2 linked regions of the Homo sapiens genome follow. The protein of the gene in region 1 interacts with the protein of each later gene in a pairwise test. Each region holds a gene or a part of one and is shown on either strand. Other genes may lie near its edges.

Evidence for each region. Proteins that work in one complex are often made in the same cells at the same time.
Region 2: the proteins of SHMT1 (region 1) and PRSS23 interact in a two-hybrid assay, tested with the Homo sapiens proteins (one large-scale study listed by BioGRID and IntAct).

The regions. Positions count from the first base shown.
Region 1 is NC_000017.11:18,329,223-18,333,557, forward strand, and holds part of SHMT1 (serine hydroxymethyltransferase, cytosolic), read right to left. Parts: intron 4,067-4,335; coding exon 3,944-4,066; intron 1,450-3,943; coding exon 1,333-1,449; intron 167-1,332; coding exon 56-166; intron 1-55. UniProt on the Homo sapiens protein: Interconversion of serine and glycine.
Region 2 is NC_000011.10:86,803,542-86,807,041, reverse strand, and holds part of PRSS23 (serine protease 23 precursor), read right to left. Parts: intron 1-3,500.

The DNA of each region.
Region 1 (4,335 bases):
TCAGAAACTAAATACACACAATAAGATGTGGCAACTTCCAAACTTTTATCCTTACCTCTGTGAATAAAGTGGGCTACTTTTTGGAAGTCTTTTTCCAAAAGTCCACGGGACGTCAGTGCTGGGGTCCCCAGCCGCAGTCCACTGGGCCGCAGAGCGCTTCTGTCACCTACAAGATAAACGGGGCTCTGTCCCTAAGTCACATTGTCACCACTGTGATGGTGGTGCATTTAAAAAGGGACATGTGGGCAAAAGAGAACTGGCCTGAGGATACTGGCTGTCCCTAGCAAGGAGTACAACTGATTCAGAAACTAAAGTAGAACCCAAGGCACAAGGAGGCACAACCACGTTTGGCCACTCTGACTTAATTACTAGTACACAAAGTGGTCTGATGTGCCCCTTGCTCCTAAAAATGAGGGTAACATCTGTCTGGGTCTGAGATGCGTCATCAATATTTTGTTAACAACCCACAGAGAAATGCAGCCTCTGGATTCCGGAGGCCCTGACCTCCCTCATCTGATGAATGTACCACCTCCAACAGCTCTACATCAGTCTTTTTGCTCCCTGGCAGGGTCAGGGCCAAGTACAAAGGCACAGCCAAGAGACAGCCAAGGTATGGTCCCTGCCCCCGCTCCATTTTTTGTTTTTGTTTTTGTTTTTTTGAGACGGAGTCTCACTGTCGCCTAAGCTGGAGTGCAGTGGCGCAGTCTCGGCTCAATGCAGCCTCTGCCTCCTGGGTTCAAGCAATTCTTCTGCCTCAGCCTCCTGAGTAGCTGGGACCGTGGTGTGTGCCACCACAGCATTTTTAGTAGAGACAGGGTTTCACCGCGTTAGCCTTCTCAATCTCCTGACCTCGTGATCCACCCACCTCGGCCTCCCAAAGTGCTGGGATTACAGGTGTGAACCACTGCACCTGGCCCAGTTTTTTTTTTTTTAGACAGAGTCTCATTCTGTTGCTAAGGCTGGAGTGCAGTGGTACAATCTCCACTCACTGCAACCTCTGCCTCCCGGGTTCAAGCGACTCTTCTGCCTCAGCCTTCCAAGTAGCTGGGATTACGGGCATGCACCACCATGCCCAGCTAATTCTTCTATTTTTAGTAGAGACAGGATTTCACCATTTTGGCCAGGCTGGTCTCGAATTCCTGACCTCAAGTGATCCGCCTGCCTCGGCCTCCCAAAGTGCCGGGATTACAGGCGTGAGCCACCGTGCCCAGCCCCCACTACAGTTTTTATGTGAGGTCTGTCCCCGGAGCCAATATATTCATCAGCTACAACTTTGGCCAGAAGAAATGCAGATGGGAGAGGAGTGAAGGAGAAGGCAAGGATGATTCTCACCTGGACAGGTGTTCTTGTTGCAGGCAATAGAACAGGCTTCTAGCACCTTCTCAGCCCTTCCACCATCTGTGCCTTTGGAACGGAGATCCACAAGGATCAAATGGTTGTCAGAACCACCTGGAAACAAAGTTGGACATGTAGAAATGCAGGCGAATTCTATGCCGTGAAGGAATCTCTGAGAAACGAAGGCGAGGATGAAGGCAGTCAAAGCAGATGAGGTCAGGAAGGTGAGCACCCCCACCACATGGCCTGGGATTCTAATCCCCACGAGAGATGCCCGTGCCTAAGAATGTGAAAGGAAGGACAGAGCACTTTTGAAAGGGGTAACTGATCATACAGCAGAGGGCCTGACACTCCCATGGGGAAGGGACAGCTTCCTCAGGCTGCTCCTGGCTTGTTTTCTCTGACAAGTTGCTTGGGCAATTCCCTAACATTGATGGTAAAGGCTCCCCTGAAGGCAGCATGAATATTGGGCAGCAGTTCAATTTACTTTGGGGGGTAAGGGGCATGTTCACAGAGCACATTAGGTGCCAGACACTGTAGCCTGTGGTAGGTTTTTCCCGGATCCTGTGAGGCTGATGGTATTATCAAAGTGGTAAGGTGACAACAGCAAGGCTAACAGAGTTTTCTGGACCTGGCCCGAGGTCATACAGGAGGATCCTTCCACTTTGAACCTTCATTAAGCTGGGGTAGTGCCTTGGGTGCTGACAGCACTGGGGCCTCTGCTTCTGAGCTGTGTTGCGGGGATCCCTTTCAAGATGCGGGTGAGCTAGGGCTCCAGCTTGGCTTTGCAGCCCCCCAGCTGTGCCCACCCACTTGCCGTGTGGCTTTAGGCAGGCAGCTCAACATTGTGAAACCTCAGATGCCCATTTGTAACAAAAAGACCAATAATTCACAGGGCTGTCATGAAGTTTAAGTAAGATACTGGACATAGTGCTTCTCATAGCACCAGGCACCAAAGAGGGCATTTGCAAGCATTATCTGTCTCAGCCATGTGCATCGGGTCCTCAGATGGCAGAGTGACAATGACACAGTCACCAGGGAGAGGGCAGGCCCATGCCATGAGATGCCCATGGTGACAGGGACTATGGCCTAAACCCTCACAACTCCAAGGGTGGCTCCCAGACCAGCATCACCCAAGGCCTGGTCAGAATCTGCATTGCACCAACAGCCCCAGGGGTGGTGTGCACATTGAAGTTTAAGAAACAGGGACCTAAAGCAGTGGTCCCCAACCTTTTTGGCACCAGGAACTGGTTATGTGGAAGACAGTTTTTTCACGGATGGCATCGGGGGATGGTTTTGGGATGAAACTTCCACCTCAGATCATCGGGCATTAGATTCTCATAAGGATGCAGGTATAATCAGAAGGAAAAAAAAGATAGTTTCTTGAAAGTGTCTAGGCCCAACCTAGATCCCTCACATGTGCAGTTCAAACCAGCGTTCAGCTCCTCTGAGAATCTAATGCTGCCACTGATCTGACAGGAGGCGGAGCTCAGGTGGCAATGCTCTCGGCCCAGCTCACTTCCTGCTGTGCGGCCAGGTTCCTAACAGACCACAAACCAGTACTAGTCCGTGGCCCGGAGGTTGGGGACTCCTGAGCTAAAGCACCCTGAAGTTCACAGTCTGCACGAGGACTTCTTGAGCTTTATTATTTGAAGACATGGAGGATGAAGGGAGAACAGAAAGTAAGTGAAGTAGAACATAAAAGAGGGTACGGCTGGTACTGCTGAGGAGACAGCACTGGCCCGGCCTTCCCAGGCACTGCCGCACATGCAGGATTGGGTGGGAGCCCCACTCCTTAGACCAGGAGGCCTGTAATCCCTCCCCAATCCTTAGATCAGAGGGCCTGTAATCCCTGTAAAGGGCAAAGGACACGGTGCAGAGAGTGGGCACTCAGGTCTACACACAGCAGGACCCATATTCCTGGACCACACCACTGCTAGCACAATCGGCAGTCTTGTGGGACTAGGTATAAAGTCGCCCTTCCTCCGGAGGACTGAGTATGCTGCCTGCCAAAAAAATGCGTTCTCCGTGGAAAGCTGCAGTGACTGTGAGGTGGATGGCACCCCAGAGTGGGGCCCTGACCTGGGAAGTCCATCTCATTCACAGCCCATCAGCTCCAGAATGTACAGATCCAAGCAAACATGCCTAAAGCAAGCCAACTCCCCAGGAATATGCAGGAAACTGGGAGGGGAGAGCCCCTGCACCCCCAGCTCAGCGGGGTGAGAGAAGACACTCCCCTGGCACAGTGCAAGGCATCACCACACAGTCCTGGTGCCACCTACCAGGTGTGTGACCACTACAGCCCAACCTCTCAGTTGAGCCTCAGGTCATCCTCCTGCAAAGCTGTTCTGAGGACAAGCAGTCCTTATGCTGGTGACCAATGGCAACCACTATTCCCATCATCTGTGGCTCACCCAAGGGGGCGGCTGGCTGGTCTGAGGCAGGGGGAGGCTTTCCAGTTGGAGGCGAGGCTGACCTCCTCCCAAGGTGGGCCCATCATTGCAGCTGCAGCAGCAGAGCCTGGGCCACATCCTGGTTGCACAAACTGAGAAGCAAGCCTTAATACAACCACAAGAACAGGCCTGCTGAACACCATCTGTGTCTCTACCTGTGACTATTTTGTAGCCCAGCTCCGTCAGGGCCTCAGACAGAGCCCTGCAGTTGGCCACCACCTGGTGTTGATAAACTTTAAATTCCAGAGTCATAGCTTGCTTCAGTGCCACAGCAACCCCTGGACAAGAAGAGACAATGGGTCAGGAGGCTAGGATAGAATCATACACAGATGATGAGTCAAACAACATTCCTGTTTTTACTCAAGCTTCCTTGCTTTTCAATGTCACCCCTTGCTTTTGCGTTGGATTATCTTTTCCTCCAAAATGATATATTTTTAAAAATTTTTTATTATTTATTATTTTTATTTTTTTTGAGATGGAGTTTCACTCTTGTTGCCCAGGCTGGAGTGCAGTGGTGTGATCTCGGTTCACTGCAACCTCTGCCTCC
Region 2 (3,500 bases), on another chromosome or scaffold:
GTATGAGATTTTTTGTTTTGTTTTGTTTTTTGCTTTGAATTTACAACAACCTTTACTATTATATATATTGAGTTCCAGAGTGGCTAGGCTTCTAATAAAATATTCCTTCTTCCTTTGGATTATGTTGTACACTACCAGGATCTTTGTCAATATCTAAAGCTCTAATATTGCATCAGCTATAACACTATGAACTGTTACCATTGGTTACTTTTTCAGTTGTTTATATCTGTATTACCAACTAAATCTCTTAAATTTGGGCCTGTGCTAGCACTCGACAAAGATTTGTTAAATGGATGCTTGTATTAATGGAAAAGTGAATGAATGTTGCATGCTGACGCTAATGACAATGATGTACATGGATGATGCGGTAGCTCAGAGAAACAGCTTGAGGCCAATTGTGGGAGTAAGAACAAGAGAGGCCTTCTAGGAGAAGTGATGCTTGAGAAATAGTATGCCACAGCCTCGCTCCAACCTCTCAATATAGAGGACCAAATGTATTATTTGGCAAATGCACCCGTTCTTTTCAAATGTACCCACCATTTAGAAGCAATAGGAGTCCTAGTAAAGGTGACACCGTGGAGCTGTCCCTCCTTGATGCTTCGGTCATTCAGTAAGCTATGTAATTTAAATTTACCCTCTAAATGAACAAATTGCCTAGAAATTTTCCAGGCATCACCTGATGTTTCAGATGGGTGCTGAAGTAGAAAAGAAGTCTGATAACATAAGACAGAGAGAAGGGGATACTTAGGGAAGGGAAACAAGAGTCTGTGCAAGGGCACAGCAACATGCAACCATGTGAGTAATTTGGGGAATCACACTTAGCTCAGCAAGGGTGGAGTAGAGGAAGTGGTGGAGGCAGCAGGCAAGAGCTAGATTGTGAAGTGCTATGTGTACTAAACAAAGAAGTTTGGATTTTATACTGCAAGGTATGTTTAAATGCCCAGATCAATCATCCCACAAGAAAAACAACAACGAGGAATACTGAAAGTGCTTTCATAAATGTTTAAGCATCAGTTGGCTCTCAGTGGCTCTGACTCTTCTGGTTCAATAGAAGCTGACTCAGCAGGTAGGGTAACTCATTCACAACCAAGCATCCAAAAACAAGGACCCGGAAGGGGTGGGTCTCAAGAGGCTCTGGGAACACAGCAGAAGTTAGGAAGAAACTGTTTTGTTATTCTCATTCTCTTCCTGTTTGAAAGTACAGATCTACTGGCAACTTTGGGTGCCTTTTGCTCCCTTTTATATAAAAGTAGAAAATCCCAATGATCTGATGTAGTATAGCTGAGCATGCCCATTCTCATTCCCAATATCCACACTGTGTTTCTAACATATGTGTGTGCCCCACCCACCTCTGGGACCTTTTTGCTTGACTTTTTCTCTTGGCTTCCACTTCAGTCAGGGAGAATAGGGATAGGAAAAGAAAGAAATAAGGTCCTGGAAAAGCCAGTTCCTTGGGACTCCCTAATTCCTTGAAATTCTACTTGTCTCCATCTTTCCAAATAGGAAGGGTCCCTGAGCCCTTTTGTAGGAAGGAAATACATTTAATTATTTCTTTAAATCCTTGAAAACATGGGGTGCCCGCATATGTGCACACACGTGTTTGTATGTGCTTGTTGGGAATATTGCCAAGACTAAAGGTTTTAAGTGGACTAGGAAGGGGATGCCAATGCTAGCTGAGTCCTCCTCTCCAATGGAGAACTTGGCAGTGAAATGGGTGTGGTGATGACAACCCTTTAGGAGATCTGTGGGGCATGGTTCTGATTATTCCCACCTACTGGCTAAGGAGTCATCCCTTGGGCTTATCGAGGACTTGAGCAGCCTTTTCTCTATATAAGTTGCTGTCTAGGTGACTAAATGCCCCACTCACACCAGAATCCCTGCCAAATGTGACAGGGACTAGGAGGAGTCATATATCTCCCACATGGCTGTATCTTGGGCTTCAACGCACCATTCTCTCCTCCCTTTGAGTAATGTGGGGAATGTTAATGTGACTTACATTGAGCACATGGTAAGCCAAGTTTTACTTCAGCTTATCTTAAGAAAGAAAACACAGAATGCGGAGGTCCAACCTGCCAAGCGTTCTTGTTTTTAAAATACGATTCTTGGGGGAGAAAGAGTAGGAGATGAGGTAGTATTATAGTATGTATTATCATCAGCTACAGATAATATTTTCAATGTGCATGAAGAACATGGCAGTTACAATATCCTCTTTCATGAGCCACAGCCTTACTCCAACCTCTCAATATAGAGGATCAAATGTATTCTTTGGCAAAATGATGAATGATTATGTCTCAAGAAACTTTGGGATCAGTTATGAATCACAGAATCCTGTTAGAGAATGCTAAAGAGTCTACTGCATGATAGAATATTACTAATTCAGAGTTCTTACAACTTGAATTCTGTTCATTTAGCCAGGAGTGAAGGAGAAGCCAGCCATCTATAAGAAAAAAACAAACTGCTAACCCAACAGGACAGTGTGAAGCTTTAACTTTGAAGAATAAATTTTTCAGAGACTTAATAAGTCCTAATTTCTATTAGTTTGCAACTCTGCTTCCAAGTTCTCCACATTACTAAACCCTATTTACTAACTTGTGTGATAAGACTTTGTTCTGACAGCATTATATATCTTGCTTAAAGCTTCCATGTAACGCTAAAAGTTATAAAATTGCATTTAAAAAAGTTTAATTCAGATTTAGAAATGAATGCAGACTTTTAGAAACTAATGCCCATCAAATTACTTCAAACTGATTAGGCTTAGATATTTTTAAAATATCTAATCAGAAATTAGAAGATACAGCTGTGGGTTCTCAAGCCCTTAAATGGGTTTAAACTGATGTCTGTATTAAAGCTACAAGCTTCTTAAGTTGCTTAGTCCTTTACCAAATGTTTATTTAGGGTGCTTTAGAAATTCTTCTGAATAGCATCCTCAACCAGATGATTGCTTTAGCTGGTCTTTTTAGCTCTGGTCTTTAGGTCCAGGATTCCCTAATATTATAATTTTCCAGAATCACGTAAGTCCAGGTCAGGGACGATGCTGACTATAGTGTCTGTACTATCATTTACTTCTCAGGACCATTGATTCATGGAATTATGGAGGGTGGAGGCAAAGGAGGGGGAAAGGAAAAGGAAAAGGAAAATGAATCATGCTAATTTCTCATCTATCTGGCAGACAAGATTTCCCTGATCAGTCTGCAACAGGACCACTGTTTGAGAGAATGATTTAACTCCTATAGCAAACAAGTGCTGGGAGGGAAAACCTAATCCTTAGGTCATATATTCTCTATTGTACAAATTGTGACTCCAGCAGAAGGCAGCTTTCAAGAACTGAGTGGAGGGATGGCTGTGTGTGTATGCTCTTAAGACAGGCCCCAAAGAAAAGCCTGAGGGGGAAACAACCCTCCTGTCCATTAAGGGTCTTTCCTGAGGCATTCGCAGCCTGCCCTGACTCATCCGCATTAATAAAACAACAAATGATGCAAAACTGTGATGCTTTAAAATTA